Regions from separate parts of the Homo sapiens genome. Here regions 1, 2, 3 and 4 are each linked to region 5. Evidence: fine-mapped expression QTL. A gene starts in region 5. Each other region holds a variant in brackets. All regions are shown on one strand. Distances are between the middles of the regions. Region 1 holds the start of IL34 (interleukin 34). Region 2 overlaps FCSK (fucose kinase). Region 3 overlaps FCSK (fucose kinase). Region 4 overlaps SF3B3 (splicing factor 3b subunit 3). Region 5 holds the start of COG4 (component of oligomeric golgi complex 4).

Region 1 (5,099 bases), 130 kb after region 5:
CCTCCTTTCTCTTCCTAGAGCCAGATTTCACACTGAGCAGCTGCAGTCGGAGAAATCAGAGAAAGCGTCACCCAGCCCCAGATTCCGAGGGGCCTGCCAGGGACTCTCTCCTCCTGCTCCTTGGAAAGGAAGACCCCGAAAGACCCCCAAGCCACCGGCTCAGACCTGCTTCTGGGCTGCCATGGGACTTGCGGCCACCGCCCCCCGGCTGTCCTCCACGCTGCCGGGCAGATAAGGGCAGCTGCTGCCCTTGGGGCACCTGCTCACTCCCGCAGCCCAGCCACTCCTCCAGGGCCAGCCCTTCCCTGACTGAGTGACCACCTCTGCTGCCCCGAGGCCATGTAGGCCGTGCTTAGGCCTCTGTGGACACACTGCTGGGGACGGCGCCTGAGCTCTCAGGGGGACGAGGAACACCACCATGCCCCGGGGCTTCACCTGGCTGCGCTGTGAGTACTGGGGGGTCCCTAGGGACCTGCATTGGGAGGCCTTGGCCTAGATCCAGGATCTGCCGTAACCATAGCAACCAGGGCATTCTTGCTGGTGAGAAGTTGCGATGCTTCCCAGCCGGACTGCAGACACCCTCTGAGATTCCCACGGCCGCCGTCTGCCCTGTCTGCCGCTCACTTCGGGCTCCGACGGGCAAGCTGGGTGGGCAGTTCTGGCTGGGTGGGCATGGTCCTCAGGGTGGTCTTAGGTCGGGGCAGGCACTGGGGGTAGGTGGCAGCATCTCACCTTTCCAGGCTTGTGGGTGTTGGGGAGCCCCGGGCGGGCAGCAGCGGCCCAGTCCTGGGTATGGCCGGTGGAGGGGGGCAGGGGCTGGTGAAAGTGTCTAGGGACCCAAGACCCACGGCAGAAGAGCAGCCAGATGCCTGGAGAAGGCAGCCTGTTCCCCTCCAACCCTCCCTCCATAACAGAACAGAATTAAAAAGCAGAAAGATAACACTGTTGGTAAAAAGAAAAATAAGTTGAAATGAGGACAGAAAGGAAAAAAAGGATCTGGAAGCCTCTTATGCCTGCTGGCTGGGAGGCCAGACCAAGATCCCCTCAGTCTCCAAGATCCAGTTCAATTGACTCAAATTCAACACATTTTTCCGGTGCCTCCCACGTGCCCACTGCAGAGTCACTGCCATGACAACAAGGACCTTGCTGTCTCGTGCCTCTGTCTCCAACGCCTGGCACAGGGTTGAGTGCTCAGGAACTGTTGGAGGTTTGGGGTATGAGCCTGCGAGGGATTGAAAGAAGAGTTGGGTCCACCCTGGCCCTTGTGGAAATATACAACAAAGGGTTGGGACATTAAGGATGGGTGGAAGGACCCAGCTGGACCCAATGTTCTGGAAACCCCTAGGTCATGAGAAGCAGGGGTGCAGCATGGGGGAGGGGCTACTGGAAATGGTCTAGAAGGTGGGGTGGTGGTCACACAGGTAGACCTGGGGTCATGAGGCCCATGTTCCAGGAAGAGGGGCCAGTGTGAGCAAAGGTTTGGCGGTGGGATGGTGAGGCCAGGCTGGGAGCTGGTTTGGACCCGGCTGGCTGAGGCCTTGAGAGCCAAGCAAAGTGTGCCTCCCTCCCCATAGCAGGCAGCCCTGGAGGATTTGAGAGCCCGGCGGGGGTGGAATCGTGATTGGGAGTTCCTCTGCTCTTGAAGATCAGTCTGGTGGTGTTTGTAGGAGTTACTGCTGTCACCGTCTGTGCAGGAGGGAATGAGGGTCATTCTGGAGGTGGAGGTGCGAATGAAAGGCAAGGGATGCTGGGCTGGTGGCTCACGCCCGTGATCCCAGCACTGTGGGAGGCCAAGGCAGGAGGACGGCTTGAGGCCAGGAGTTTGAAACCAGGCTGGGCAGCATAGCGAGACTCCATCTCTAAAAAAAGGAAAATTAGCCAGGTGTGGTGGCATACATCTGTAATCCCAGCTACTCAGGAGGCTGAGGTGGGAGGATCACTTGAGCCCAGGAGGTTGAGGCTGCAGTAGCAAGGATCGCATCACTGCACTGCAGCCTGGGCAACAGGGTGAGACCCTGTCTTTAAAAAAAAAAAAAAAAAAAAAAAGGAGAAAAGAAAAAGAGAGAAAGAAAAGCAAGGGAGAGGGGAAAAAGCTCCAGGAGGGGTGGGTCTTAGGACCAGGCAAAGACTGGCTGGGGGATGAGGGAGAGGGAGAGCAGCAGATTGAGGTGGGGGCTGGTGCCCAGGGGCTGGGGTGCTGAGGAAGTTGGGCTGCCATAACCAATTAGAAAGCTTCGGGTGGCTTAGAGCAACAGGAATGTGTCGTCTCACAGTTCTGGAGACCGGAAGTGTGAGATCAGGGTGCCTGCAGGGCTGCGTTCCCTCTAAAGGTGCCGAGAAGGAGCCTCCCTTGCCTCTTCCAGCTCCTGGTGGCTCCTGGCTTCCTTGGCTTGTGGCCTAGTCACTCAGATCTCCCTTTGTCTTTG[C/T]GTGGCCTTTCCCTTTGTGTGTCTCTATGTCCTCTCCTCTTCTTCCTAGGACACTAGTCACTGGATTTAGGGAACTGCCTAAATCCAGGATGGCCTAATCTTGACATCCTTCATTTAATAATGCCTGTAAGTGGCACAGGACAGGCGAGCCCCCAAGGGGGCTTAGCCTGCGAGGGTTCTTGGCTTTCCCTAGGAGAGAATTCAAGGCAAGCTGGTGGTAGAAGAAAACAGCTTTACTGAAGAGATGTTATAGCTCTGTGCCAGCTCCTGCAGAGCAGGGCTGTGCCAGAGGAAGCGTACTGAGGAGCAGCTCGGGGCCTTTTGCAGTCATATTTATACCCACCTTTAATTGCATGCAGATTAAGGGGCAGTTTATGCAGACATTTCTAGGGAAGGGGTAGTAACTTTTGGGACATTGGGTCATTGCTATGGAAAGCGGTGGTAACTCCCAGGCGTTGCCATGGCAATGGTAAACTGACATGGCACACTGCTGAGCATGTCTTTTGGAATGCTGCTTCTGCCCCGTCCACCCCTGTTTTCACTAGTCCTCAGTTTGGTCCAGTGTCAGGGCTCTGCCTCTGGAGTCGGTCCTACCTCCTACTTCACAAAGACCCCATTTCCAAACAAGGTCACACTCGGGTTCGGGTGAATGTGGATTTGGAGGAGATGCTATTTAACCCACTGCACAGGTTCAGATTTGGTCCCCGGGGCTGGGGGTGACAAGCCTCACTTGTCACTGCACATAGGGTCAACCCAGGGCCAGGGAACCAGGAAGGGAGTACCGTACTCACACAGATCTTTCTTAAGCCTCCTCTCTGTCTTGCAGGTTGTTTTATTATTTTATTTTTATTTTTATTTTTTGAGACGGAGTCTCACTCTGTCACCCAGGCTGGAGTGCTGCGGCACGATCTCAGCTCACTGCATCCTCTGCCTCTTGGGTTCAGATGATTCTTGTGTCTCAGCCTCCCGAGTAGCTGGGACTACAGGCACCTGCCACTGCGCCTGGCTAATTTTTGTATTTTTAGTAGCGATGGGGTTTCACCATGTTGGCCAGACTGGTCTTGAACTCCTGACCTCAGGTGATCCGCCCACCTCGGCCTTCCAAAGTGCTGGGATTACAGGTGTGAGCCTCCGTGCCCAGCCTGTGTTGTGGGTTCTTACCTCTGGGCTAAGACAAGGGCAGGGTGGGTCTCCTGACCAAGGTCAGGGGTGGCACTGGCTGTGGGGTTCCTGGTGTGCAGAGCATGTGGGGGACAGTGGCCTTGAGGTTGGGGCTGTGCTGTCCCTGCCTGGTCCCTGTTTGTTAACCTGTTTCTCTGGGTGGGTGGAGGCAGCAAAAAAAGAAACTTGCCCTTAGCAATGATGTTTGGGCTGCACTCAGAGGAAGGCTGCCCAGTTGGGGGAGAGGCAGATCATCTGTGGACAGGGTTTCCAGGGCAGCTGTGTGCCCACCGTGTCAGGCTGGGAGGCTCAGTGTCACTCCAAGGCACAGTCCCTGCCTTGAGGCCACAGCTGCCGGGTCCCCAGGGCCCCAGAACGGGACACAGAGAAGGGCAGGTGCTGTAGGGTTGGGAGGTGAAGTAGACGGCCAATGGTGATGGCCACACAGGAAAAAAGACCCAGTGTGGACAGAGGTACTGATTTTTTTAAAGAAAAGCTGAAATTTTGAATTGTTGTGTGAAATCCTTGTGGACCAGAGGTGGCTCTCGGGACACCAGCTTGCAACTGTTGCTCTAGGTCTGTGGTTCCAGACCCCCAGCCACAGCTTTACCTGGGACCTTGTTAGAAAGGTAGACTCTCTGCATCCTAGACTGGTTGAGCAGAGACTCTGGGGCAGGCAGGACAACCTGTGCCTTAACGAGCTCTGCAAGGGATGACAATGTCTGCTCCCATTTCTACTGCTTGAGGCGAATCCCCAAATGCACATGTGAAGTTCTCAGCACGCTGGGCTGTGCAGTGTTTAACTGCGTTATGGATTCACACACAGGCTCACGCCTGTAATCCCAGCACTTTGGGAAGCCGAGGTGAGTGGATCACGAGGTCAGGAGTTCAAGACCAGCCTGGCCAACCTGGTGAAACGCCGTCTCTACTAAAAATACAAAAAAAATTAGCCGGATGTGGTGGCGCGCACCTGTAATCCCAGGTCATGAGTGAATGGGGAAGGTGGTGCTGGAGACAGAGACCGATGGGGGCTGATGCAGAAAGGGGAGACCCTGGCGTGGTGATGGGGGGGAGAGAAGAGTCTCTGGGAGGCTTTGAAAGAGGTCTGTGTTGTGAGAGGGTACCTAGCGCAGGGCAAAGCATGAGCCCAGGAGGCAGGGATGATCTTGACCTGCAAGAGTAGATGCTAAGCTGAGGGGTTCAGGACTTAGGACAGAAAGTAAGCAGATGTTAAAGGGCCAAACACTGGTTCAGTTCATGTTTATCTGTTCTTCTCACCCAATACTGTATCAGGCACAGGGGAAGAGGGAGAGAGGAAGTGCAAGATAGATTGCAGACTTGCAACTTAGCAAAAAATGTGGGGCTATATGGGGTACAGGGCTTGAGGAGACCTGAGGCTCTGAGCTGAGCAAGGGCACTCCTGGTGGGAGGTCCTGCAGGGACAAAGGCGAGGCAGGAGGCCTGAGCAGGGCAGGTTTGGAGAAGGCAGTGGGGAGGTAGCAAATGGGTGGT
Region 2 (5,099 bases), 51 kb before region 5:
GGGCTCCTGGGGCCCAGATTGTGCACTCCCAGGTGGAGGTGAGACCTCCCTGCCCCTCCGGTGCCTGCTGGTTGTCTGGGGTCAGGTGGGATGTGGATTCCCGGGAAGAAAATAGCCGGCACTTGGAACAGATGACCCGAGTGCAGGTGTTACCCTGGTTTACACATGAAGTGCTGGAGGCTCAGAGAGGCTAAGTAACTTGCCTAAGGCCACAGAGCCAGTAAGTGGCCAACTCAGGATTCTGCATTGAGCTTGCCTGATTGAGAAGCTAAAGGAGACCTTTATTTGGGGTCTGCCTGGGGTGACAGTGGTGGGCCTGGGTCAGTGCCGTGCTGCTGAGGAAGGGGACAGGTAGGGTTCAGAGGTGGCCCCCAGGGTGGCAAGGTTGGGCGTAGTTGGACAGGTGGGATGGAAATAGGTCTCAGGCTGGGGCCAAGGCAGGTCCAGAGAGGAGTCTAGGGTGCTGCAGGGCAGGGGAGCAGTAGGCCTGGACGCTTTGCCCCTGGATGCTTGGCTTGGGAGGAGAGCTGGGGCAGCCCTGGGCCTCGACCCCCCTCATGCTCCTCCTACCTGGCTGCACAGGAGCAGCAGCTTCTGGCGGCCGGGAGCTCTGTGGTCAGCTGCCTGCTGGAGGGCCCTGTCCAGCTGGGTCCTGGGAGCGTCCTGCAGCACTGCCACCTGCAGGTGAGGCCTGAGCGTGTGGGCAGATTGGGGCGAGGGTGCTGGCATCCCGCATGTGTTGGGGGGTGTTGGGTGCCTGCCCACCCAGGATGCCTGCCCTGTCCCCCACCAGGGCCCCATTCACATAGGCGCTGGCTGCTTGGTGACTGGCCTGGATACAGCCCACTCCAAGGCCCTGCATGGCCGGGAGCTGCGTGACCTTGTCCTGCAGGGACACCACACGCGGCTACACGGCTCCCCGGGCCACGCCTTCACCCTCGTTGGCCGTCTGGACAGCTGGGAGGTAGGCAGTCACCCTGCATTCCCTCACCCCCATCTTCAGGCTTTGGGGAGCCCAAGGAGTCCTGGCCCCCACCCCACTGCGGGGTTCTCTGAGCACTGGCCCGTGGGACAGGCTGTGAGGAGGGTCGGATGTAGGGAGGAGAGAATGAGGGAGGAGATAGGGTGAAGATAGGCTGTGAGACCAGCAGAGTCTCCACAGGCCTTTACCTCCCTCCTTGCATCTGCTCTGCCAGGTGGGCTGGGTGGGGATTTTGTTTTTTTTCTGGAGATAGAGTCTTGCTCTATCACCAAGGCTGGAGTGCAGTGGCCCAATCTCAGCTCACTGCAATCTCTGCCTCCCAGGTTCAAGCGATTCTCCTGCCTCAGCCTCACGAATAGCTGGGACTACCAGCGTGCACCACCACGCCCAGCTTAGTAGAGATGGGGTTTCGCCATGCTAGTCTGGTTGGGTGGGGTTGTTGTTTTTTTTTTTTTTTTTGAGACTCACTCTGTCTCCCAGGCCGGAGTGCAGTGGCGCAATCTTGGCTCACTGCAAGCTCTGCCTCCCGGGTTCACGCCATTTTCCTGCCTCAGCCTCCTGAGTAGCTGGGAGTACAGGCGCCCACCACCACGCCTGGCAAATTTTTTTGTATTTTTTAGTAGAGATGAGGTTTCACCGCGTTAGCCAGGATGGTCTCAATCTCCCGACCTCAACTGATCTGCCTGCCTCGGCCTCCCAAAGTGCTGGGATTATAGGTGTGAGCCACCGCGCACGGCTGGGTGGGGGTTTTTATCCTTATTTGACAGGCTAGAGACTGGGATTCAGAGAGGGAGGTAACCCGCCTTGGGCTGCAGCCTGTTGTGGTGGGCTGGGCCTGGAACCCAGGGTTCTGCTCCAGATTTCAGGCACCTTGGCGGGAGTGTTGGGGCTGCAGGGCTGAAAACAATTTCAGAAATTGCTCCATGGCTGGGTGTAGTGGCTCATGCCTGTAATCTCAACACTCTGGGAGGCCGAGGTGGGAGGCCAGGAGTTCATACCTGCAGTGAGCTGACCACACCACTGCACTCCAGCCTGGGTGGGTCAAGTATGTTCTTTGTCTGTCTTCCTGCCCTCATGTGAGCACTTGAGCAGCTCCTGGCCCCCTGGCCGAGTGTCTCTAACCCTTTCCTGTGGCCCCTGCAGCCCTGACTGCTTCTTCCTCTCCCCCAGAGACAGGGGGCAGGCACATATCTCAACGTGCCCTGGAGTGAATTCTTCAAGAGGACAGGTGTTCGGTAAGGTGGACACCCCTAGGGCCTCTGTGGGCCTGGGCAGCTGGGGTG[G/A]CTGCTGCTCTTTGAGGTGTGTCCCTCCCCTGCCCCAGAGCAGCACGGGCCGTGTTACCATCCAGGGGCCTGGGTGGTTTTGGGCAGCCGGATTCTCTCCAGTACTTTCCCCCGGGCAGCTCCCAGTCTCTGGCTGTGCTGACTTTGGCTTTCTTGTTCAATGGTCTGGGAAAGGATGCCAGGCAGCCTGGCCCCCGACCTGAATTGCCCACTTATGCTACCTCGGAGGAGTCTGTCCTGTCCCCATGAACTGACAGGCGGCTCAGGGCTTGGGGAAGAGACTGGAGCTTTTGCTTCCCTCCTGGGAATGTGCCTTCTCCCCACATCAGAGCCTGGGACCTGTGGGACCCTGAGACGCTGCCCGCAGAGTACTGCCTTCCCAGCGCCCGCCTCTTTCCTGTGCTCCACCCCTCGAGGGAGCTGGGACCCCAGGACCTGCTGTGGATGCTGGACCACCAGGAGGATGGGGGCGAGGCCCTGCGAGCCTGGCGGGCCTCCTGGCGCCTGTCCTGGGAGCAGCTGCAGCCGTGCCTGGATCGGGCTGCCACGCTGGCCTCTCGCCGGGACCTGTTCTTCCGCCAGGCCCTGCATAAGGCGCGGCACGTGCTGGAGGCCCGGCAGGACCTCAGCCTGCGCCCGCTGATCTGGGCTGCTGTCCGCGAGGGCTGCCCCGGGCCCCTGCTGGCCACGCTGGACCAGGGTGAGTGTGCAGGCTGGTAGTGCTGCAGAATCAGGCCAGGGGCACCTGCCCTCCCTGTCCTCTGGGCCATCCCCTGAGGGGACTAGGGGACCATGAGGTGCTCAAGCAGGGAAGGGGCATGCTGGAGTTTACTTTTAGGATTCTGGAAGGCCTCATCCTTGTCAATGGGGTTTGGTCTGAGGTTGAGGCATGTTCATCCTTGTCAGTGGGGTTTGGTCAGAGGTTGAGGCCTGGCAGCTGAGCTCTAGGTCCTAGGCACATCGGCAAACCCTGCGTGTTCTGTACTGGGTGCCAGGATGTGGGTGCAGAGCGTGGCGAGGGGACAGAGCCCCCAGGGGACATGGTCATCTCTGCATGAGGTCCCAAGCACACTTCCGGGGGCTCACAGCCTTAGCCTCCTAGGCTGAACCTCATGGAAGGTCCCAGGGACCGTGGACATGAATGGTATTGAAGCCACTCACCCAGAGCCACACGGCTAGCTGGTGGTGAGGCTGAGACCTGAGCCCAGGTGGTTTGAGCCCAGAGCCTGAGCTCTTCACCACTATGGGTGTCCTGGGTGGGGGTGAAGAGACACCTATGGGCTGGGACTGGCAAGACGAGATGATCTCTGCCAGGCAGAGAGCAGGAGTGCAGTTACAGTCAAAGATACATTGTGGGCAAAAGCCAGGAGGTGTGAGGGGTCTGGCGCATTTAGGGACTGTTGAGTAGCCTCTCGTGAAAGAGGATTTTGAAGACAGGCCTCCTCCCCTGCCACCCCCAACTCCTTGTCCCTCAGTTGCAGCTGGGGCAGGAGACCCTGGTGTGGCGGCACGGGCACTGGCCTGTGTGGCGGACGTCCTGGGCTGCATGGCAGAGGGCCGTGGGGGCTTGCGGAGCGGGCCAGCTGCCAACCCTGAGTGGATGCGGCCCTTCTCATACCTGGAGTGTGGAGACCTGGCAGCGGGCGTGGAGGCGCTTGCCCAGGAGAGGGACAAGTGGCTAAGCAGGTGTGTACTAATGGAGGTCAGATCCCTTGGATAAGCCCCTTGCTGTCTGGGAAGTGGACCCTGATGGAGGAAACCCAGAGAGAGGTGGGGCTCCCTTGGGTACCCCGGGACAGTCAGGTCCCCAAAGCCAGGCAATCTGCCCCCAGCTTGGGGCTGCATGCCACCATCCCTCCCCCTTCTCTTGGCAGGCCAGCCTTGCTGGTGCGAGCGGCCCGCCACTATGAGGGGGCTGGTCAGATCCTGATCCGCCAGGCTGTGATGTCAGCCCAGCACTTTGTCTCCACAGAGCAGGTGGAACTGCCGGGACCTGGGCAGTGGGTGGTGGCTGAGTGCCCGGCCCGTGTGGATTTCTCTGGTGAGCCCCTTGTGGCAGGTGGGGTTGAGGGTAGCTGCCCCAGAGCCAGGCTGGCAGCTTCTGTGACCAGCTTGAGTCTTGCCACACTGCCATAGGGGGCTGGAGTGACACGCCACCCCTTGCCTATGAGCTTGGCGGGGCTGTGCTGGGCCTGGCTGTGCGAGTGGACGGCCGCCGGCCCATCGGAGCCAGGGCACGCCGCATCCCGGAGCCTGAGCTGTGGCTGGCGGTGGGGCCTCGGCAGGATGAGATGACTGTGAAGATAGTGTGCCGGTGCCTGGCTGACCTGCGGGACTACTGCCAGCCTCATGCCCCAGGTCAGGCACCCTGGGACCTCTGCAGGTGGGGCTGGCCAGCTGGGGGCTCGGGGCAGAAGCTAGAGACTGCAGGCCAGTGGGGTCTGGCCTGAGGGCCAGCCAGTCTGGCTGAGGAGCCTGAAGGGAAGGAAGGGGCTGGGAGTCAACCTGCAAAGATGACACGTGTCCCTGTCTGGGAGCCCAGAGGCCCTTTTGTGGCTTGGGGATGGGGCCAGTACTGCTGCTGGGCTTTTGTCCCACCGGATGAGTCCCGCACTGGGCTGGGAAGTCCAGGGTGGGTGGGTGCCTGCGTCTGCCCATCGAGACTGAATTCCTTTCTCATGCCTGTCCTTCTGCAGGGGCCCTGCTGAAGGCGGCCTTCATCTGTGCAGGGATCGTGCATGTCCACTCGGAACTCCAGCTGAGTGAGCAGCTGCTCCGCACCTTCGGGGGCGGCTTTGAGCTGCACACCTGGTCTGAGCTGCCCCACGGCTCTG
Region 3 (5,090 bases), 42 kb before region 5:
CTCTGCTGGGCCAGTGCCTGACCTCGTACTGGGAGCAGAAGAAGCTCATGGCTCCAGGCTGTGAGCCCCTGACTGTGCGGCGTATGATGGATGTCCTGGCCCCCCACGTGCATGGCCAGAGCCTGGCTGGGGCAGGCGGTGGAGGCTTTCTCTATCTGTTGACCAAGGAGCCACAGCAAAAGGAGGCCTTGGAGGCGGTGCTGGCCAAGACCGAGGTACTGATGGGGCTGGGGTTGGTAAAGAGACCTCTGGGGGCAAGAGACCTCACTGTGGCCCACCAGTTAACCAGGGGCTATATCTGTAAGTCCCCCTGGTCCTGCAGGCCCAGTCCAGCCTCCAGAAGGCCTGAGATTTGTCCAGAGCCTTCTAAATACTTCCTGTCTTGTCCAGGGCCTTGGGAATTACAGCATCCACCTGGTTGAAGTGGACACTCAGGGCCTGAGCCTGAAGCTGCTGGGGACCGAGGCCTCAACCTGTTGCCCTTTCCCATGAAGCTGGCTTCTCTCTGCAACAGGAGAAAACCTGGAGCTACAGTGTCCCCCACCTTCCTTGCCCCATGGGAACCTCCACCTCCTACTCCCCACCCACCTCTGCGAATCTGCTCCCAAAGGAAGCTGACCAGAGCAAGATCTGGGCAAGCAGAGAGTGCCTGGGACAGGACTGTGACCTGGTGGACAGGGGCCTAGATGTAGCCTCTGTTCCTCCTGGACATAGGAAGGTCCCAAGCTTAGTATCCCACGTGGCCTTTACAAATCCTATGGCTGGCCTTCTCATTCCACAAGGGCCCTGGAAAGGGTTGACAGCCAGCCTTGGCATATGGCTGGGAGTCCCTTAGCAAGGCCAACCCTGAAGAGGCCCTTTGAGGCATTCCCTATGGCTTAGAGTTGTAGACTTACACTCAACCCTCATGTGAGCGTGGGAGTGAGGGTGGCGGTCCCTTGCCAAGTTGGTAGCAGTGACCCAGTGATTCACTGCCATCCCAGGCCTTAACTAGCAAAACTACGGAGCGTGCCAAGTGACCTGGTGCCTGTGGGAAGTGGGTTCTCAGGACTGGCATTCTTGGAATAAATTCACTCTGTCCTTGCAGGTGGTCCTCGTAAAGTCACTTTTGCTCCTGCTGGGAGCAGTTCCCACTTCTCTACACCATGGGGAACTGGCCCTGGGGTGATCCAGCTTGTGGTGCTGGGGGCCCAAGAGGGGCACGAGGGTCTGGGACTGGATGGGGGCTCCTGCCATCATGTGGGCCCCGGACACAGCTGTGTGCTGCACTGTGTGTGGGAGCAGGCTGAGGTCTTGGGTTTTACCTTCCTATTTCAGTGCAACTGATAGACCTGCCCTGCCCCATAGCATCTGGCCCTCCCTGGTAACAGCACACTGGCATCTCTCCAAGGAGTAGCTTTATTCAGGGATCATAAACATCACAGCCTCTCCTCAAAGTCAAGCCTAACTGCTAGGTCCCCAGATGTACCCAAGTTGTCTAGGACTGGCAGGGGTAGCTTGTTTGCTGTAGTGTTTGAGGGCAAGAGACTGACCATCCATGCAGAAAGCTGGCCTGGGCTGCTCGCTGCCTGCCGTGGCTTTCCCACCTCATTAGGAGCCCGCTTCTCTCGGTGGGGAGATGCTGCCCCCAGAGCATCACCTGGCCAGGTCTGAGGGCAGAGCATGGAGTGGGTCCAGACTTTGTTTCTCTGCTGCCAGCCGTAGAAAGGTCTGGGCTGTCAGATCTCCCCCAAGCCAGACAGCCTCGCTCAGCTCCTTGGCTGGGGCCCCTTAGGGAACAGGCCTGCAAGTGTGATGAGCCAGGTGTGCTCATCCAGGCAGCTACAGGCGCAGCCTCTTGATATCTTCACTGCGGAAGTCTATCCGCAGGGCCAGCACCTGGCGCACTTCAGCAGGGGTGAGGCGCCACGTCAATGGGCCGGAATTGGGTCCCCAGTAATCGAGGATCTCGGTCACCTGTGGGGAAGGACATAGAGACCAGTCAGCAAGGTGGGGTTATTCTGAAAGAGGGCTCTGGCCTCTACCAGGGGCAGAGCAGGGGCACCCGGGAAGGGGAAGGTGTCCTATAGAGCTGGCTGCTGGCAGACATGGTTTAGAGGGAAGTGGCGGGGATCCATCTTTGCCTCTTTCAGTCACCCCTCCCTGGCTGGGCCAAGGGTGCCCCACCTACCCGCTCCAGATTGAGGATGGTGGCCATCTGGGAGAGCCGGGCAAACTTGTCTCGGATGGTCCAGGTGGTCACCGTGGTAAGGTAGGCAATGAGCGACCTCAGCTCCTTGTCAAACTGCAGACCACCCAGCTGCAGGAGAACCCAAGCCCAGTCACTACTTAGGCCTGGCCAAGCAGAACTGGCCTCCAGTTGCCCCCAGAGCTGGGTGGCAAGGCCCGCCAGGCCTCAGGTGGTGCCCTGTGGTTTGTTTGCTCTACGGCTTCAGAAGCCAGAGCAGGACTGGACCCAGACATGCAGGGCCTGTGGGCAGCAGACAGAGGGGATGCAAGTCCTGGGGG[T/G]GGTGGCATGACATGTCTTCCTCAGAGGAGAAACGAGAGCCGCAGACCCATGACCCCTTTACCTTACCCGGTTAAAGGTGGATTTCAGCACCACTTTCTCCAACTCGACGGCAACAAGGCTAGTCATGAGGCCGGTTAGGCTGTCGTAGATGACCGGGGACAGGCTGGCCTGCACACAGAGGGTTGACATCAGCCGAGCCCCACCTAACTCCTCTGCCTCTATGCTGGAGTCTTAGGTGGTGAGGATAGTAGCGTGAGGCCACGGGGGAGTTTCTACAGGTGAGGGTTGGAAGGGCTTTCAGGGTCCCCAGAAGGAATGTGATGAGACCCTGCAGGCTGCTGGTTTGGGCTGACGTGGGTAATTCCCTAAGTGGATCCCTAGGGCCCCTGCTCACCTTGAACTCTGCCATTTGCTGCTCCAGGTTAAGGATGAACTGTTGTACCCAAGGGTCGTTGGCCTCATAGTCATTGAATTCTTCCTGTTGTCAGGAAGCAGGGCTGGTCACCATGGGCCTCATAAGAAGTACCATTCATTGCCACCCACCTCTATCCCTCTAAGAAAATAATGTAAAACATTCTTCCTTCCCTGTGCCTTCTGACTCATCTAGTTTAAAACCAGCTCAGACACCCAGGCTGGCAGAAACTGACCAGCAAACAGCCCAGGGCTGTAGCAGTGGCCCACATAACATGGTAAAGTTCCTGGCATTTTATTCCTTCTTGGATCTCTTGTTCTACAGGAATGAAATCACTACGCCAGGAGGAAAAAAACGCTTCTAAGTCTATCATAGGCGGGGCAAAAAGAGCTCCAATAAGGGAATAAGTTAGGTCAAGGCAAACTCCATGTCTTTCTGAGCCCTTCTGACTAGGGACAAACTGTTTCCTGGGAGGAACCTAGTCTTCATGGGTCAGGGTGGGGGAAGTGGGCCTGGGAAGCATGGAAGGTCTAGTCTGTTCAGATGGCTCTGCTCCCTCTAGCTGGGGCTAGGGATGAGGGGTCATCGGGGCTTGATGGCTGCCTGTGGCCAGGCTAACCTCCTCGATGTTGTGGGAGACGGAGAAAAAGCTGTTGATCCAAGGCTGCACCTGTGGCTTGATGGCTGTGCTGTTGAGCTCCGTCAGCCCTTCCTGCACAAGGACAAGGTGGAGACATGTGACACAGAAGGCACGACTCATCCCTTCCCTCTCTCTTCTCCCCATCCCTTCCCTCTATCCTCTCCCCATCCCTTTCCTCTCCTCTCCCCATCCCTTCCTTCTCTCCTCTCCCCATTTCTTCCTTCTCTCCTCTCCCCACCCCTTCCCTCTCCTCTCCCTACCCCTTCCCTCTCCTCTCCCCACCCCTTCCCTCTCCTCTCCCCACTCCTTCCCTCTCTTCTCCCCACCCCATCCCTCTTTTCTCCCTACCCCATCCCTCTCTCCTCTCCCCACCACATCCCTCTCTCGTCTCCCCACCCCTTCCCTCTCTCCTCTCCCCACCCCTTCCCTCTCTCCTCTCCCCACCCCATCCCTCTCATCTCCCCACCCCTTCCCTCTCTCCTCTCCCCACCGCATCCCCTTCTCCTCTCCCCATCCCTTCCTTCTCTCCTCTCCCCACCCCATCCTCCTCTCCTCTCCCCATCCCTTCCCTCTCTCCTCTCCCCATCCCTTGACTGCAGGGCGTTCTTCCAGCCCTGAGGCTTTCTGCAGGCCCTGTTGGAGGTTATAACAGAGCTAGTGCTAATGAAAGGAGGAGCCAGGAACATGCCCCTTTCCAGATCTCAGCTGATTCAGGTCCAGGGTAACGATGAGGCCTTGAGACTGTTCTGATAAACTCTCACAAGAGATTTCAGAATGCTCAATGTTAGGCAGCACCTGCGGCTAGGTCAGAACAACCATGTGGCTCCACTTCCTCTGAGCATCTTCTGAGAGCTCTTGTCATTGTGGGGCCAAGTGCAAAGTCTAGAGCACCAGATGTTGGCTTGTCAGTGTGACAACTTCACTGCTGAGAAACCAACAGGGCCTTTAGTCTCAAGGGACCTGCACAACTCCAGGCTCCAGGGCTTGCGTGCTGCTCCCTCACCCGTCCTCCTGGCTTCCTTGCACACGATGAGCCAGCTAACAATCTTCTCAGAGCAACACACAGGCACAGGATTCAGTCAGCAGTTGAACCTGGGGCTTACCTGCAAGAGGTCTCGGAATTTGTTGGACACGGCGGCCAAGTCAGAAAGGCAGCTGTCAAACTTGGCCTGGGCCTGCTCCCCTCCAATGCCCTGGCTGAAGAGCTTGGTGCAGTCACTCTAGGGGAGAACACTGCTGTAAGACCACCGAGCACGCGTGGGCCATGGGAGTGTGAGGAGCCACCAGCCAGTTCTACTCCTCCAGCCAGCTATGGCCTGTCAAGAGCCCGGATGGGTTTCAGAAAACCTGGATTCTATCCTGGTGGTTATCCACTTGGCTCCCACTTCCCCCTCTGTAATATGGGGGTACCAATGTCGGGGAAGTGAGTAAGAAACAGAAATACCAGAAAGTTTTTCCTGTCTTTAGAGTCAGACATTCCTAGGTTCAAGTCCTGGCTCAGTCATGTATTAGTTGAGTGACCTTGGGCA
Region 4 (5,099 bases), 50 kb after region 5:
CGAACCCCACCCGAAGTGTCCAAGAAACTCGAGGATATCCGGACCCGCTACGCCTTCTGAGCCCTCCTTTCCCGGTGGGGCTTGCCAGAGACTGTGTGTTTTGTTTCCCCCACCACCATCACTGCCACCTGGCTTCTGCCATGTGGCAGGAGGGTGACTGGATAATTAAGACTGCATTATGAAAGTCAACAGCTCTTTCCCCTCAGCTCTTCTCCTGGAATGACTGGCTTCCCCTCAAATTGGCACTGAGATTTGCTACACTTCTCCCCACCTGGTACATGATACATGACCCCAGGTTCCAGTGTAGAACCTGAGTCCCCCATTCCCCAAAGCCATCCCTGCATTGATATGTCTTGACTCTCCTGTCTACTTTTGCACACACCCTTAATTTTTAATTGGTTTTCTTGTAAATACAGTTTTGTACAATGTTATCTCTGTGGGAGGAAGGAGGCAGGCTGTGGTGGGACTGGGTAGGGTATAGTATCACTCCTGAGTTCCACTGCTCTAGAATCTAACCAGAAATAGAAACCTAGTTTTTAAGGTGACTGGCATCCATGTGTCTTGTTCTGGAGATGAGGATGTAGGTGGGAGGTTTGAACCCAAGTTAGAGCAGGAAGAACTGAGTAGACTCCTTCCTTCCAGATACCGACTTGGACTTGCGGCACTCTGTGGCTCCCCACCCCCAGGTCTGTGGTGGTTTCTTTGTTTTTTCCTGGTTCTTTTTGCTGTGCTGATGAAACATGACCTCAATAACCATGTGTATACCCACCCCTCTTCCCACTGGGTATTGAGGAAGGGTGGCTGATTCTTCCTCCTCTTCTACTCTGAGGATGTTAGTATGGGGATTTTAGCATGAATTCTAGCTGGGGAGTCTTAACAGATGCCCCTTTTACTGATACAGCACCTAAAGCGATCTTTGGCTCCATAGGACCATAGGAAGGGTCAGTACAGAAGAACCTAGATACTGCCCTGCCCCTGAGAACTGTGTATATGTGGGGCCTGTCTGCAGCACCCATCTCAGGTGGGTTCCAGAGGGCCTTTAGGGTATAATGAGAGCCTGTTAGGTGGAAGAGGCCCAGTTCCAGAAATGTTCCAGCCCACCCCTGAGAATTCCTCCTGTTTAGTTGTGTGGGAAGCCCTCGTCTTCCAGGCTGTCCTTGCGCCTTGAACCTGGAGAAGTGAGCTCACTGTTCTCAATACTTCACAAATGTAAAACTTTCTTTCGTCTGCATGTGCTCAGCCATCTAAATTGAGCAAATGATCTGGTGAGCACTGGGTTAGAATCAGGAATGGTGGAATACAATCTGAACCTCTCAGAGCCCAGAACAGAGGGTTCCTGACACTGTGACACTGTCTCCTGGAACTAAGTATCTCTTGAATCATGACTTGGTTTTAGATCAGTCAAGAGAGACCCAGGTTTTGCCAGGAATCGAATCCCTAAATAACATGTTTTTTTCTCACTTAGCTCATGAATTTGCATAGTAGACAGTAGTTCTGAATTAGATTTTGAAAACCTAATTTCAGGGCTCATTTTTTCCTGTGGCCCTAAATCCATTCTATCAAATTGTGTGATACTGACATGCAGTCATCTGAGGAACTCAGCGTAGATACTTGAGCAGCTCCTCGCCTCTTTTCTAACTCAAGTTTGACTAAAATACATACACTCCGTACAGAAGGTAGGGGGTTATGTAAGAAAGGAAAACCTAATCTATGGAATCAGGAGTTGTCACCACCGAGCTTCCTCTGGAAGTCTGCCCATCAGCTTGCTTGTTCTCTGTTAAGAGGAAGGGCTAGGACAAGGATTTGGGCTTGAATATGTGGAAAGGAATTTTCATAGTTGTTGCTGCAGGACCTACAAAAGTTTAAAATTAGATTGGATGTGACTCAATGACAAGTCCCATCTGTGTAATTGTTAAGGGGACCTGATTGACTCCTGTGGTTTGATTGAGCAACCAGGTAAATAGAGACCTCTCTCCAGCTTTGGCAAAACCCATCAGAGGCTGCTGCAGAACTCAGACAGAGGGATCTGCCCTTGGGTTTGCTTCCATCCTGTTCCATTGCTAAGCCCTTGTGACTTGGATCCTAGGACTGAAAAGTTTTTAGCTGCCTCAGCTTTCCCCTGACCTTACTGGCAGAGGTTCTGCAGATGTTTCCTTTGGAAGATCTCTTGCCAAGAATAGCATTCCTTTGGAGGAGGGGGGTTCTAGTTGGAATGTTGCTTTTCTTGGTTAGTGTAAATGTATTGCTAGTGAGACAGCTGCCGGCGCTGGAAAAGGCTCGTCTCACAGGGAGAGTGCTGGTCCCCAGAATGTGTGCTGTTCCCACGCTGCTGCCTTTCTTGAGCTTGTTAGAGGAAAGCCAGAAAGGCATTCAGATGGGATCAGTCTGGCTTTCAAATTTTTTTTAATTCCTAAGTTCTGTTTTATTTTTTAATTTTT[T/A]AAAAAAAATTTTATTAGAGACAGTCTCTCTCTCTTGCCTAGCTGGGAGTGCAGTGGAGTGATCATAGCTCACTGAGGCTTGAACTCCTGGGCTCGAGCAATCCACCTCAGCCTCCAGAGTAGGGGAGACTACAGATGTGTGCCACCATACTCAGCTAATTTTTAAACTTTTGTAGAGACAGGGTCTCCCTGTGTTGCCCAGGCTGGCCTCGAACTCCTGACCTCAAAAAATCTTCCTGCCTTGGCCTCCCAAAGCACTGGGATTATAGGTGTGAGCCATTGCGCCTGGTCATAAATTCTTGTTTTTTTGTTTGTTTGTTTATTAGAGATGGAATCTCTCTCTCTTGACCAGGCTAGAGGGCTGTGGTGCGATCTCAGCCCACTGCAACCTCTATCTCCTGAGCTCAAGCGATCCTCCTTAGCTTCCCAAATAGCTGGAACTACAGGCATGTGCCATCACGTCCAGCTAATTTTTGTATTTTTAGTAGAGAAGGTTTTACCATGTTGGACAGGGTGGTCTCGAACTCCTGGCCTAAAGTGGTCCACCTAGCTCAGCCTACCAAAGTGCTGTGATTACAGGCGTGAGCCACCATGCCCAGCCTCTAAATTCTGTTTTCTATTCAAAGTAAAAATGACATGTGTTTGAGTCATCCACTTGCTCATTTGCATATGGAATATTGTATGTGAATATTTTATTACACCCTTAAAATTAATTTTCAAGGGCTATATGTAGAGCTCAGAAGAAACATCTCTGCTGCTGAAATCAAACCTGGTCCAAAAAACGTCACAACGGAGGAAAGGAATAGATGGCTCTCGAGGACAAGATAGGGACTCTTAAAACACCTGCTTGGCCATGGTTGATTGACATTTGAGTGATCTGGTAGCCCAACACACCCTGTGAAGTTCAGGTGAACTGAAATGGGCAGGTGTAGGCTACACACCAGTCTGAACCAGCACAACCAAGAGTTGTTTCTCTTTTTTTTCTTTTTCTTTTTCTTTTTTTTCTTTTTTTTTTTTTTTTTTTTGAGATGAAGTCTTACTCTGTTGCCCAGGCTAGAGTACAGAGGCACAATCTCGGCTCACCACAGCCTCCGCCTCCTGGGTTCAAGCAATTCTCCTGCCTCAGCCTCCCAAGTAGCTGGGACTACAGGCATGCACCACCATGCCTGGCTAATTTTTGTATTTTTAGTAGAGATGGGGTTTCACCATGTTGGCCAGGCTGGTTTCGAACTCGTGACCTCAGGTGATCCACCCACCTTGGTCTCCCAAAGCGCTGGGATTACAGGCGTGAGCCACTGCACTTGGCCAGGAGCTGTTTAAGCCATCAGGAGACATGCTGACCCACTAGAAGAGGCTGCTACGCTCATTTCTTCCACAAACGTTTACTGGGCACCTACCATGAACCACCACCTCCCAGCTCTGTTCTGCACCCAGAGGTTGGAGGAGAGTTTATAACCAGGCAGTCTCTGTCGCTGTGAGGTTGGTGGTGAGGTGAGTCTGCCAGAGGGCCTGCCACCAGTTTCAGAAGAGCCTGCAGCCTGCATCTGATTTCCTCAGCCACAACCTTGGGACTTCAGGAAAAATCAGAAGGTCCCAAGTCTGAAAAATGAAGAGGTGGGGAGTGGGCAGCAGGGGTTTTAGGTCAGGAAATGGTAGGAAACCTGTAGTTGTGGCTCATAATCCTAGTGGGATATTAGAACCCTCTTCATTTGTCAGAACAGATTCCTGGGGTCTGCTCCCAATTATTCACACGGTGGTTCATGCCTGGTAATCCCAGCACTTTGGGCGGCCAGAGGCAGGCAGATTGCTTGAGCCCAGAAGTTTAAGACCAGCCTAGGAAACAGACCCCATCTCTACAAAAAATTCAAAAAGCCGGGCGTGAAGCCCTGTTTTTTTTTTTTTAAAAAAAGAGTCTGCTGGTGATGTCTGGGCATGTGTCTGCTTCACAGTCCAGTGTTATGATCAGTAGCTGTGATGGACAATGAACATTGCTGCTTGTTCAAAATGAAGAAAAAAAATATCAAAGAAAACCAGGTTTGGAAGTTTCAGATTTGGAAAAGGAGCTGGGCCAGCCCATCTGGAATAGCTGAGGGGCCCTGTTAGCCCCACCCTACCCCACCCCACCCCCGTATGCAGCATCTCTGGCGGTGCCCAGAGGCAAGCCCCCTTCAGTTTCCCACCTCTCACTCTGCCTTCCAGAGCCTAGTCAAGTTTTAAATTCCCAGGTCCACTCAGCAGAACTTGCTCCCTTCTCTGACTGCAGTCTCATAATGAAAGGAGAGGTGCTTTCAGTTGGGTCATTTGGTAGCGTTTAGGCTTAGAAGTTACTAATTTGGAGCCGTGAGTATATGTGTATAAGCTAGTAACACGTGATGGTCAAGGGAAGTACTACCATTTCCTGTGGGTTATTAGGGCCTCCAGCTGTTATGAGGACACACTGGGGAATCTCAGCTTTAGGGAGTCGATGATGTAACTGGAGAAAGGCAATGCTGCCCTCATAAAGCAATCAGAAACGAGATTCCACCTGCCAAATGCCAAGAGGCAGCAAAGTCCATGAAGAGAGCACTGTATACAGTCAGATGACCTGGGCTCACTAGCCTCTAAGCATAGTCTTGGTTTCCTGCCTGTAAATTGGTAGAATAAGACTGATTTACTGGGCCT
Region 5 (5,098 bases):
CTCGAACTCCTGACCTCGGGTGATCCACCCGCCTCGGCCTCCCAAACTGCTGGTATTACAGGCATGAGACACCAAGCCCGGCCATATACATTTTTATTAAAATCGTTCTGTAGGTTCCAGAGGAAAACGTCCTCTTGACAGTCATGGAATACAAATACAGTACTTATATCATTTTGTCTGTAAGATTTCCATAATTTTCCACCCAACATATTAAATGACTGAATGAATGCGAGCTTAGGAATGTTAAGTCAAGATACTAAATTTTTTTTTTTTTTTTTTTTGAGACAGAGTCTCACTCTGTCGCCGAGGCTGGAGTGCAGTGGTGCGATCTCGGCTCACTGCAAGCTCCTTCTCCCTGGTTCACGCCATTCTCCTGCCTCAGCCTCCCGAGTAGCTGGGACTACAGGCGCCCGCCACCACGCCCGGCTAATTTTTTGTATTTTTAGTAGAGACGGGGTTTCACTGTGTTAGCCAGGATGGTCTCGATTTCCTGACCTCGTGATCCATCTGCCTCAGCCTCCCAAAGTGCTGGGGTTACAGGAGTGAGCCACCGCGCCAGGCTTTTTTTTTTTTTAAGAGACACAATTTTGCTCTTGTTGCCCAGGCTAGAGTGTAATGGCGCTATCTTGGTTCACTGCAACCTCCGCCTCCCAGGTTCAAGCAATTCTCCTGCCTCAGCCTCCCGAGTAGCTGGGATTACAGGCATGCGTCACCACACCCGGCTAGTTTTGTATTTTTAGTAGTGATGGTTTTCACCATTTTGGTCATGCTGGTCTCGAACTCCTGACTCAGGTGATCCTCCCGTCTTGGCCTCCCAAAGTGCTGGGATGGCAGGCGTGAGCCACCGCGCCCCGCAAGATACTAAATTTTAAAACACATCTTGCTGAGGCCAGACAAAAAAAGCCCCACACACTAAACTAGCCAGGCACGGTGGTGTGCGCCTCTGGTTTCATCCATTCTGATTGCAGCACAACAGCACTCCAGCCTGCGCAACAGAGAGCGGCCCTGTTTCTAAAAATAACAAAACAAAACAAAAAACACCACACACATCTTGCTGAAAAACGTATCAGAAACTGCTAGAGTTAGTGCAAGTTTATACTTGAAAATACTCAAAGATATCAACGATCACCTCTCCCTCAGGCTGAAACTGCCTTTTGTGCTCAACTTTGCTAGAAGTTTGGTCTGGGAAACAGCTGACAAGCTTAGAGCTTAGATCTCTTTTGACTAGCAAGGAACCCAACTGACATTCGAAAGTGAATTGACAGCATCGAGTTGCCACTGAAAATTAAAGGAGGCAGGAAATAGAACGTTATGAACTGAAAGGAATTGGAGAATAGTCCACACCCCTCATTTGATAAAATATCAAGGGTACCAGAGATGAAGTGACTTGTCCAAGATTAGAGAATTGTGTCTGAGTCTTAAAAGCTAAACCTCTACAAAGATGTGCATTTGACCAAAACGCTAAAATCACACCCCCAAATCACTCCCCACAAGAGGAAGTCTTAAAACGCTTCAAGAAGTTAATCTGCAAAGGCTTCCCTCTTAAATAACAGGATGAGAGCGTTTCATAATTTGTAAATTAAGCCAATGCAAAAGGGCGCTTATTATTTTGAGAACCAAGCAATTTGGCAAATACTCTCAGACTAACTTTACTCCCGTGGAGAAACTGGTGATCATGGATCAGGGAAATCAACGGGGGTCTAGGGAGGAGAGGCTGCAGATCGCCCAGGTATCAGGGAAGACAAGCTCGGCGCGTCCGACAGCGTGAAAAGAGTTGACAGGACTACTCATATACCCGACTAGCTTCCGCTTCTTTGTTTTCCCGCTTTTTTGTATCCCCCAGCAAGGAGAGTTTCCCACAGCCCGGATTTCCCGACTGAAGGCTCCCACTCTCCCTAGATCCTCCATGAAAAAGAAGAGGCTCGACCCCGCACCTCCTCGCCGCAGAGCCGTTCGTATACAGCCTCCAGCTCCTGCAGCTCTGTCAGGGAGCGAATGAGCTCAGCGGAGATTTCGGAGCAGCGGCCACCTCCCACCCCCTCAGACGGCTGCTGCACCCCTGACAGCTTCGGAGGCGAATCAAGGTCCGCCATCTTGGTCCCCATTCGGCACTTCCGGTCCCGCGAGGCCCCCTCTTCGTTGGCGCCTATTTGGGGCTGCCCACAGAAGTGCCCAATGAACTCTAATGGTTTTTTTTTTTTAAAGTCTACTTCTAAAAACGTATTAATTTTCTATTCTCCTGGAAAAAGCAAAGCAATAAAGCATGTTTAAATAATTTGTAATGCCGTGTGGAAGCAAGACGGAAGCATTTTTTAAAAATTATATATATTCTTCAGGCGCGGATTGGGTGCCTTTTTCCGCCGCGCGCCACCAGAATGTCCCTGTCTTGAGGTCTAATGGCGGACGCCAGTATGTTGGAGTTGGTGGTGGCTTAAGTTTTGAAGGGAGGTAGCATCCGTTGGATATCCACACCATCCTTCTCGCTGCAGGGTAAAAAAACAGCCTGGAGACTTCCCCGGGCCCGGGGAGGCGGAGACCGGCCATATGGAAGGGGGACCCGAGACTTTGGCGGGGGTCACGGGCAGTCTAGGCCCGAGAGGCTGGGGACCAGGAGGAGGTACCGAGGGATGGTTGAGGCGCCAAAACGGCTTCCTGCAGTTATCTCTCGCTTCCATCCACAGTGTGGGAACATATTCTATCTCAAAATAGGGCTCGTGGAGATTGCTTTTAACTTCTGGGGACTCTGAGACGGGGGAGGTGTGACAAGCAGCGGGAGGCATGGATGTCTCCCTCTGGGTAGAGTAAATGGTACACCGAGGGGAAGATAGAAAGATGGAGCGTGTTAAAAGCGTAAATAACGGAAACAGTCTTTAGAGCCAAGACTCCGGTTTGAATTTGTATTTTGGTAGTTGGGCAACTTGTCTCCTCCTCTGAACCTCTATTTTCTCGTTTGCGTAATGGAGGACAGAGTTTAAATGCGATGATGTTTCCTTGGAGGATGGAGAAGATGCAGTGAGCAATCATACAAGCTTTTTGTAATAATGGTAAACAGACGTGGGGGAAGTTTTTTTTGTTTTGTTTTGTTTTGTTTTTGTGACGGAGTCACAGTCTGTCGCCCAGACTGGAGAGCAGTGGCGCGATCTCGGCTCACTGCCATCTCTGCCTCCCGGGTTCCAGCGATTCTCTTACCTCAGCCTCCCGAGTAGACTAGCTGGGATTACGGGCGCGTGCCACCACGCCCGGCTAATTTTTCTTTTTTTGAGACGGTGTCTCGCTTTGTCGCCCAGGCTGGAGTGCAGTGGCGCGATCTCTGCTCACTGCAAGCTCCGCTTTCCGGGTTCACGCCATTCTCCTGCCTCAGCCTCACGAGTAGCTGGAACTACAGGCGCCCGCCACCGCGCCCAGCTAATTTTTTGTATTTTTAGTAGAGACGGGGTTTCACTGTGTTAGCCAGGATGGTCTCGATCTCCTGACCTTGATCCACCCGCCTTGGCCTCCCAAAGTGTTGGGATTACAGGTGTGAGACACCGCGCCCGGCCCAGACGTGGGGGAAGTTTTAAAGCTTACCAAATTTATCTGGTATGTATTTTTTGTTTGTTTGTTTTGTTTTTGAGACGAAGTCTCGCTGTCGCCCAGGCTGGAGCGCAGCGGCTTGATCTCGGCTTACTGCAGCCTCCTCCTCCTTGGTTCTAGCTATTCTCACGCCTCAGCTTCCCGAGTAGCTGAGATTAAAGGCGTGTGCCACCGCGCCCGGCTAGTTTTTGCATTTTTAGTAGAGGGGTTTTCACTGTGTTGGCCAGGCTGGTCTCAATTCCTGACCTCAAGTGACCCATTTGCCTCGGCCTCCCAAAGTGCTGGGATTACAGGCGTGAGCCACCACTGCGCCTGGCCTCGTATATAGTTTTTCTAGTACTGGACTGATCCTCCGAAATGCACCTTCCTCCACGATCCAAAGTTAAGGTGTCGCTGGAGAACCTGAATCCAACTAGATTTGGGAAAAAATGAATTCCAAAGGTTTGTAATGGATTGTATCAGTTATAAGGAAAGGGGAAAGTAGACTGTTTTGATCAGCTACAAAATATGAAAAGTAACTTGCGGGGAGCTGTTCAGGGATTCAGAAGCAGCTCCTAGCTTCCTCTCTTTTGCTTTTTTTGTTGTTTCTCCACTCCCTGGTCTTTCAACATCGGTCCTTTTCGTTCATGTTTTACTGTGGTCCTAGAACGTTAAACATATACCTTAGTCTATGGGCTGGGCGCGGTGGCTCAACGCCTGTAATCCTAGCACTTTGGGAGGCGGAGGCGGGCGGATCACGAAGTCAGGAGATCGAGACCATCCTGGCTAACATGGTGAAACCCCACTAAAAATACAAAAAATTAGCCGGGTGTGGTGGCGGGCGCCTGTTGTCCCAGCTACTCGGGAGCCTGAGGCAGGAGAATGGTGTGAACCCAGGAGGCGGAGCTTGCAGTAAGCCAAGATGGCGCCACTGCACTCCAGCCTGGGCGACAGATTGAGACGCCTCAAAAAAAAAAAAAAAAAAAAAAAGGAAAAAAAAAAGATATACCTTAGTCTCAAGTAGAAAATTTTATATCTCTCAGGACCCATTTCTAGCCTGGAGCATTGATCTTGCCACCCTGCTTTTGCTCAGCCCAGAAAGTTATTTATGAGGACGTTTACTCATAATTCTCTCTTCTCGTTTAACAATAAAATCAAATATGTATGTTAATTCTATACTAATGACCTTGGATTTCTCAAGGTCCCGTGCTTTTTATTTATTTATTTTTTTTTTTGAGATGAGGTCTCATTCTGTCGCCCAGCCTGGAGTGCAGTGGCATGATGTTGGCTCACCACAACCTCCGCCTCCCAGGTTCAAGCGATTCTCCTGCCTCAGCCTCCCGAGTAGCTGGGACTACAGGCGCACAGCACCATGCCCAGCTAATTTTTGTATTTTTAGTAGAGACGGGGTTTCACTGTGTTGCCCAAGCTGGTCTCGAACTCCTGACCTCGTGAGCCACCACGCCCGGTCACATATGTTGTTTCTTAATAGGGCTTGCTCTGCTGGTTCTGCTGTCTTCATCCAGAATTTCCCATACAGAAATGT

Evidence for each region. PIP is the estimated chance that this variant, and not a neighbour inherited with it, causes the effect.
Region 1: its variant is fine-mapped to the expression of COG4 in prefrontal cortex (GTEx, PIP above 0.99).
Region 2: its variant is fine-mapped to the expression of COG4 in spleen (GTEx, PIP 0.96).
Region 3: its variant is fine-mapped to the expression of COG4 in whole blood (TOPMed, PIP above 0.99). The same link has a PIP of 0.9 or more in lung, prostate, spleen, thyroid and tibial nerve.
Region 4: its variant is fine-mapped to the expression of COG4 in whole blood (TOPMed, PIP above 0.99).

What each region holds. Positions count from the first base shown.
Region 1 is chr16:70,646,530-70,651,628 of GRCh38, forward strand. IL34 (interleukin 34) reads left to right here and starts at 30. Exons shown (of 6, transcript NM_001393494.1): 1 at 30-446. The coding sequence starts at 419. RefSeq lists an enhancer at 3,262-3,762. The variant C/T (reference allele first, on the strand shown) is at 2,427.
Region 2 is chr16:70,470,389-70,475,487 of GRCh38, forward strand. FCSK (fucose kinase) reads left to right here. Exons shown (of 24, transcript NM_145059.3): 11 at 1-38; 12 at 583-684; 13 at 794-964; 14 at 2,153-2,217; 15 at 2,595-2,965; 16 at 3,741-3,951; 17 at 4,140-4,306; 18 at 4,402-4,623; 19 at 4,962-5,099. Among named protein-coding and RNA genes, the nearest start is that of FCSK, 18 kb to the left of the region's middle. RefSeq lists an enhancer at 442-1,377. The variant G/A (reference allele first, on the strand shown) is at 2,266.
Region 3 is chr16:70,479,189-70,484,278 of GRCh38, forward strand. FCSK (fucose kinase) reads left to right here. Exons shown (of 24, transcript NM_145059.3): 23 at 1-215; 24 at 391-1,086. The coding sequence ends at 492. COG4 (component of oligomeric golgi complex 4) reads right to left here. Exons shown (of 19, transcript NM_015386.3): 14 at 4,665-4,781; 15 at 3,541-3,633; 16 at 2,904-2,987; 17 at 2,576-2,677; 18 at 2,171-2,299; 19 at 1,383-1,956. The coding sequence ends at 1,822. Among named protein-coding and RNA genes, the nearest start is that of FCSK, 27 kb to the left of the region's middle. RefSeq lists a silencer at 1-12. The variant T/G (reference allele first, on the strand shown) is at 2,509.
Region 4 is chr16:70,571,754-70,576,852 of GRCh38, forward strand. SF3B3 (splicing factor 3b subunit 3) reads left to right here. Exons shown (of 26, transcript NM_012426.5): 26 at 1-5,099. The coding sequence ends at 60. Among named protein-coding and RNA genes, the nearest start is that of SNORD111, 36 kb to the left of the region's middle. RefSeq lists an enhancer at 3,919-3,988. The variant T/A (reference allele first, on the strand shown) is at 2,439.
Region 5 is chr16:70,521,439-70,526,536 of GRCh38, forward strand. COG4 (component of oligomeric golgi complex 4) reads right to left here and starts at 2,116. Exons shown (of 19, transcript NM_015386.3): 1 at 1,935-2,116. The coding sequence starts at 2,105. It overlaps SF3B3 (splicing factor 3b subunit 3), which reads left to right and starts at 2,378. Exons shown (of 26, transcript NM_012426.5): 1 at 2,378-2,490. RefSeq lists enhancers at 1,749-1,888, 2,922-3,659.